Homo sapiens: one gene and its partner. The protein of the gene in region 2 interacts with the protein of the main gene of each other region in a pairwise test. Each region holds a gene or a part of one and is shown on either strand. Other genes may lie near its edges.

Region 1 (3,500 bases), on a different chromosome or scaffold from region 2:
GCCACCGCGCCGGCCTCAATGCACTCTTTAAAGAGAAGGGCAGTTAGCGACAGGGTCTCATGTTGTTGCCTAGGCTGGGGTGCCCTGGCACGATCATGGCTGACTGCAGCCCTGTGCGCTCAAGTGAGCCTCTCACCTCAGCCTCCCAGGGTGCTGGGACTGCCAACATGAGCCACTGGACTCGGCAGTGTAAACTACTTTTTTCATGCTATTGCATATGTATTGTTCATTGATAATATATAGAAACATAACTGGGTTTTGTGTATGGATTTTGTGCCCTGCAACTTTGCTGAAATAATTAATTAGGGTTTTTTGTATGTGGATCTTTAGGGTTTTCTACGTAGAAGGTCGTGTCATTTGTGAATAGGGAGAATTTGTCTTTGTTTTCTTTTTCTTGCCCAGTTACTCTGGCTAGGGCCTCCAGTGCTGCCCTGAGAGCAGTGGTGAGAGAATCCGTATCTTGTTCCTGACCTTGGAGGAAGAGCTTTCAGTCCTTCACAGTTGAGCGTGGTGTCTGCTGTGGGTTTCATGTAGAGGTTTTATCGTGGTGAAGAAGTTCCTTTCTGTTCTTGAGATATTTCCTTAACTATTCTTACCTGGATCCAGAAAGGAACCACAAGTGCGTCTCTCTCTTTAAGTCTCCGATAGACGCACACTGGAAGCTGCTGCATTTGCTGGTCCCTCAGGGACTTGCCAGACCAACTAAAATGCACGACCCCAGACTTTTGGAGGACAAGGTCTCCTGCCCACCATGGTCCCAGCCAGCAGCTCCAGGAACACAGGCTGGGCTCCCTGCAGTGGAGGCGGGGTTGAGGAATGCTGGGGTGGCAGCTACTCACCGTGTGCTTCCCAGGGAGCATCACCTGTTCCTCTGAAGCCCTGCCTGGGTGGCTTGAGCTTGGAATCAAGCTGACCCATTTTGAGAGAGTGGATTCTGAGCTTTTTCCTAGCGTAAGGTCGTTTTGATAAAGGAGTGGTCCTTTGGACATCCCTGTTCTGCCGTCCTGATACCTCTAGTTGTGGGTTTTATGTGTAGCACAGGGTGAAGCTTTAGTTCTCAGAACCCACCCCTGCTGTACCCTGTGCCCTCGCCCTCCGCTGTGTTTGCCCTGACCCTCCTGTACCCTGCGTCCTCGCCCTCTGCTGTGCTCACCCGACCCTGCTGTACCCTGCGCCCTCGTCCTCTGCCGTTTGCCCCTGACCCTGCTGTACCATGCCCTCGCCCTCTGCTGTGTTCACCCTGACCCTGCTGTACCCTGCGCCCTCACCCTCTGCTGTGTTCACCTGACCCTGCTGTGTCCTGCGCCCTTGCCCTCTGCTGTGCTCGCCCTGACCCTGCTGTACCCCGCTGTACCCTGCGCCCTCGCCCTCTGCTGTGTTCACCCCGACCCTGCTGTACCCTGCGCCCTCATCCTCTGCTGTGCCCTCCCCCTCTGCTGTGTTCGCCCTGACCCTGCTGTACCCTGCGCCCTCGCCCTCTGCTGTGTTTGCCCTGACCCTGCTGTACCCTGCGCCCTCGCCCTCTGCTGTGTTCACCCCTGACCCTGCTGTGTCCTGCGCCCTTGCCCTCTGCTGTGCTCGCCCCTGAGGCCTCCTGTCCAGAGTTGCTCTGGCTTTGGTGGCTTCAGGTAGATTCTGAGGGTCAGTCAGCACAGAAGCAACTCAGGGAAGCTTCAGAAAAGACCATTTCTCAGGTTGGAGAGACAAAAAACATTTTGCAAATGGAGATCAGAAACCATTGAATTTGGGAACCTCTTTTTTTCAGAGTCTCTGGTAAGAAGAGTGAAAGCAAAGAAGCCAAGAAGTCTGAAGAACCAAGAATTCGGAAGAAGCCGGGACCCAAGCCCGGATGGAAGAAGAAGCTTCGTTGTGAGAGGTGATGCCTGCAACGCGAGGCTCGCCCTGCCTGTCGGGGCCGGGGCTCCATGCATGCTCTTCATTGCAGGGAGGAGCTTCCCACCATCTACAAGTGTCCTTACCAGGGCTGCACGGCCGTGTACCGAGGCGCTGACGGCATGAAGGTGAGCACTGGCTGTGCCTGACCCAGGCCCGGCAGCTGTCAGTGTGAACCTGGGGGAGGTAGCAGGTGTTTCTGCAGCCTAACTCAGACTTGCGCCCAAGGACACTTTGACCTAGGTTAACCGAGACCTGAAGCAGTCCTAGCCAGTGCCATCCTTGGGGGTAGATGTGAGGCCAGACTTTCACTTGAGACACCCCCCGGGGGGTCTAGAAGTTTCTTGGAGTGAAGCTGTGAAGGAGCCAGTGGTGTCGCTGGAGGAGGAGTTGGATCTGCCTTCCAGGGGCCTCAGCTGTCACCTACTGAGGGCTCGTGCCATGTGGCCCGGGTGCGGCTCTGAGGGTCTCTCACCGAGTCTCTCCTTCAGAAGCACATCAAGGAGCACCACGAGGAGGTCCGGGAGCGGCCCTGCCCCCACCCTGGCTGCAACAAGGTTTTCATGATCGACCGCTACCTGCAGCGCCACGTGAAGCTCATCCACACAGGTACGCCTATCGCCAGTGTCGCCCACGCGGGTGACAGCCAGGGGCACGTGACCTGCTTTCCAGTCTTCCTCATACCCATCCCCGCCCCAAGAGTTGGGGGTGCGTGAAGGTGGCTCATGGGGTCTTTGGTACTCAGTCACGTTGGTAGATGAAGGCTAGAGTAGGGCGTCAGTGTGAATCTGCCCTTCCCTGTGATGGAAGGAATTCCTGACTTCCCCAGGATCTAGGCAGTTTGTCAAAACTAATAGCCAAGCAATCTTGGTGTCCTTTTGCAAATTGGTCATTTTATTTTTTAATTTTTTTTTGAGACGGAGTCCTGCTCTGTTGCCCAGGCTGGAGTGCAGTGGCACCATCTTGGCTCACCACAACCTCTGCCTCCCAGGTTCAATCAATTCTCCCGCCTCAGCCTCCCAAGTAGCTGGGATTACAGGCACCCGCAACCATGCCTGGCTAATTTTTGTAATTTTTGGTAGAGACGGGGTTTCACCATGTTGGCCAGGGTGATCTCTAACTCCTGACCTCAAGTGATCTCAGCCTTCCAAAGTGCAGAGATTACAGGTGTGAGCACTGCACCTGGCCCAAACAAGTGTATCTTAAAAGGCAAGGCAGAAGGCATGAAGGCACACCAGCTCTGGGGAGCTGCCCACGTGGACAGGCGGGAGGCACGTGTGGTTCTGCCTTTTCACATGTGTGTAGGTCGTGTCATTAAGACCGGAGGCGGATGGGGGAATTATGACTGAGGGTGCTGTCTCTGTGCCCGTCTTATTTTTCACAATTTCTATAATGCACAAGTTACTTTTATAATCCAACAAGGATATGTTTTCAAAATGACAAACTTGGCCGGGCGTGGTGGCTCACACCTGTAATCCCAGCACTTTGGGAGGCTGAGGTGGGTGGATCACCTGAGGTCAGCAGTTCAAGACCAGCCTGGCCAACATGGTAAAACCTGGTCTCTACTAAAAATACAAAAATTATCTGGGTGTGGTGGCACACGCCTG
Region 2 (3,760 bases):
TGTACTAGAGGATGATCCCTCTAACAAAGTGCCAGACTCACAGTTGGGCCTTGTGAGTGCCAGAAGTACAGTGAAGGCAGTAAAGAAGCAAATTGTAGCTGTCCAGATGATGGCGAGCCCAGATAGGGTTTGGTGCCATCCTGCGTGTGTTTCCCCTAGCAGCCAGTGTCTGTCCATGTTGAAATTCCACATGTGTTGTAACTGGCCAGTTTCTTGTCAGTATTACTCCCACTAGGCTATCAGCTCCTTCAAGGCAGAGACTGTCTCTTTAGGCTCAGCATCTAGCACATACTCAATCCCTAATATATATTTATTGAATGAACTATGTAGAACTAAGCTGGACATATGCCTTACCTTGTCTTTTTATGGCAATTGTCAGAATTTTGTATTTCAATGGCTTCCACATTATACCCTCCTAGGGCAATAAATCCTTTATATCCACATGATGGTCCCACAGAGGACTAGAAAGTTTGACTGGATTTAAATCCTGTTAAAAATGTGGAAGGGAATGGAAAACAATACAGTGGGTCCTCAAAAAATTAAAAATAGAATTACCATATGATCCAGCAATTCCATTTTTGAGTATATACTCTGAAGAATTGAAAGCAGGGTCTCAAAGAGAGATTGGTATACCAGTGCTCACAGCAGTGTTATTCACAATGGCCAAAAGCCAGAAGCAACTCAAGTATCCGTTGACATTTGAATGGATAAACAAAATGTGTTATGTATAGACAATGGAATATTATTCATTCTTAAAAAGGAAGAAAGTTCTGACACATGCTACAACATGGATGAACCTTGAGGACATTATGCTAAGTGAAATAAGCCAGTCACAAAAAGAGAAATACTGTATGATTCCACTCACATGAAGTACCTAGAGTAGTCTCATCCATAGAGACAGAAAGTCGAGTGGTGATTGCCAGGGGCTGGAGGGAGGGAAGAATGAGGAGTTGTTTAATGGGTGCAGAGTTTTCAGTTTGGGAGGATGAAAAGAGTGCTGGACATAAGCATCTTGATGGCAGGGACTGTGTCTTTTCAAAAATCCATGGGCTCTGTTTTATAGCACTTGATATTAAATAATCACCACCGAACATACACAGGCTAAGAACACTGAAGTGTTTAGAGAGAGAATTCACACAATCTTCCCAGACACCATATGACAAGTGACATAAAACATATTTACCTTTTAGTAATTCTACTTCTGTGAATTCACTTTAAGGAAACGAGAGATGTGGAGACCGCATATGTACGCATTTTCTTCAAACTTAGGAGAAACTGGAAGGCCCCAAATAGGAGAATGATTAAAAACTATCGCAAACTCCTAGGATGATCCAATAACATAACCATTTAAAAATCGTGTTTTTAGAGAATATTTAATGATGTGGAAAAATAGTCCTAAAGCTAAGTGAAAAAAAATCAAGATGCAAAACTATATGAAAGATTAAACAGTTATATAATCCAGCAGATTCAAGATAAATGAAAACATATGTCCATGCAAAAACTTGTACACAGGCCGGGTGTGGTGGCACATGCCTGTAATCCCAGCACTTTGGGAGGCCAAGGCAGGTGGATCACCTGAGGTCAGGAGTTCGAGACCAGGCTGGCCAACATGATGAAACCCTGTCTCTACTAAAAATACAAAAAGTAGCCGGGCGTGGTGGCACATGCCTGTAATCCTAGCTACTCAGGAGTCTGAGGCACGAGAATCACTTGAACCCAGGAGGTGTAGATTGCAGTGAGCCAAGATTGCACCACTGCACTCCAGCATGGGTGACAGAGCGAGACTCCATCTCAAAAAAAAAAAAAAAAAAAACACACACACACTTGTACACAAATGTTCATAGCAGTATTATTCATAATAGCCAAAAATGGGAAATAATCAAAATGTCCATCAACTGATGAATGGATAAATAAAATGTGGTTTATCCACACAACATAATATTATTCTGCCATGAAAAGGAATGAAGTACTGAAAATGCTACAACATGGATGAACCTTGAAAACGTTATGCTGAATAGAAGAAGCCAGATACAAAAGACCACATACTGTATGATTTTATTCACATGAAATGTCCAGACAGCAAATCTATACAGACAGAAAAAAGATTAGTTGTTGACTTGGTGGGGTGGGACAGAAGGGCAGTGGAGTGAAGAAAGAGGAGTGGCTGCTAAAGTGCAGGGATTTTCTTGGGGGGTGGTGGCACAGATAAATCTTCTAAAGTTGATTTATTTGTGGTGATGGGTTACACAACTGTGAATATACTAAAAGCCACTGAATTATACACTTTAGGGGAATTGTATGGTATGTGAATTACATCTGAATAAAGGTGTTATTTAAAAATAGAATCTGGTCCAAATTTTACTTAAGAATTACATATGGAAAGACTGAAGAGATACGCAAAATTTTAAAGAGGGGCATTTTCTGAATGGTGAGATTTTAGGTAATTTTCATTTGTTCTTTTACTCTTTTCTGTATTTTCTGTGATGAGCATGCATTGTTTTCATAATCAGAAAAGTTATTGGTCTAATATAATTTCATGATAAACTGTATACATTTAAGATACTGAAAAATGGTATGGTGAGAAATGAATCAATCACCTTCTACCCACCTTCCCTCTGAAATGTGAATATCGTCTCTTAAGAGTGGCTATATCACCTGTGGCTTTGCATTCAGATAAGTATTCATAATTGCCTCAGAAATCGATTACTGCATCTCAAACAGGTGCATCTCCCCTCAAACTTTATCCCCAAATATGAAGAGTTAAGTACCCTTACATAACCAAGAGTCTGAGTCCTACATTTTTAACCACCAGAGGGAGCTGGAATGTAGAAAACCTGGGGCAGTCAGTTTTGTTTTGTTTTAAAGTTAGTTTCACAAAGGGCCATCAATTCAGGATCTTATGTAATTTTCCTAATTATTGTGAACCAGCACTTAAAAGATAATTCTTTTTTGCCTTTTTAAAATTCCACTTTTAAAGACTGCATACAGTAAAAGAGGTCTTCCTAAGAATCAAACTCTTAATAAACAACAGGCAAGACAGCACAGAAAAATAAAAAATATTCACACCCTCTATTAGCGAACATTTCTCTCAGAATTGTCTGCTTCAGATCTTGAAGTCACGCAGTTGTGTCACAGTGATAAAGTTTCAAGTTATTCAATATACTTGAGCCCTCCCCGACTCGTTGAAAAGTTTCCTAACAAAGAAGAAACATTCAATGTGCCTGCATTCTATATGCATTACTATTGAAATCAGGATGGAGGTTTGCTAGGCATTGAGAAAGATGGTGAATAAGAGATGGGCCTACAGCGCCCAAAAGGAAGTTAAGCAATATTTGACTCAGGTCAGAATTTCTCAACTGAAGGTCTGAGTTTCAAGGTAATTCTTAAAGGGAATTGTAATTATAGCTTCGGGGTTTCAGTGGGGTGAAAGCAGCAATTTGTCTTACCAGCAAAATGAGTAAATCTATAGAAGTTAATGTATTTATGTATAAACAACCAAAAAGCACTTTGCTCTTCATTTTATATGTTCTTTTATTGACCTTTTCTTCATATTTCTTTAAAAAATTTTAATTGTGATAAAATATACAAAACATAAAATTTACTGTGTTAAGCCCTTTTTTTTTTTTTTTTTTGACAGAGTCTCGCTCTGTCGCCAGGTTGGAGTGCAGTGGCATGATCTCGGCTCACCGCAAACTCTGCCTCCCGGGTTCAAGCAATTCTCCTGCCTCGGCCTTCCGAGTAGCTGGGACTACAGGTATGC

Evidence for each region.
Region 1: the proteins of TCEANC (region 2) and ZNF276 interact in binary tests that used the Homo sapiens proteins (3 or more experiments, as listed by UniProt).

Annotation. Positions count from the first base shown.
Region 1 is NC_000016.10:89,731,537-89,735,036, forward strand, and holds part of ZNF276 (zinc finger protein 276), read left to right. Parts: intron 1-1,765; coding exon 1,766-1,876; intron 1,877-1,945; coding exon 1,946-2,021; intron 2,022-2,384; coding exon 2,385-2,502; intron 2,503-3,500. UniProt on the Homo sapiens protein: May be involved in transcriptional regulation.
Region 2 is NC_000023.11:13,656,015-13,659,774, forward strand, and holds part of TCEANC (transcription elongation factor A N-terminal and central domain-containing protein), read left to right. Parts: intron 1-3,637; 5' UTR 3,638-3,672; coding exon of another isoform or gene 3,673-3,754; intron 3,755-3,760.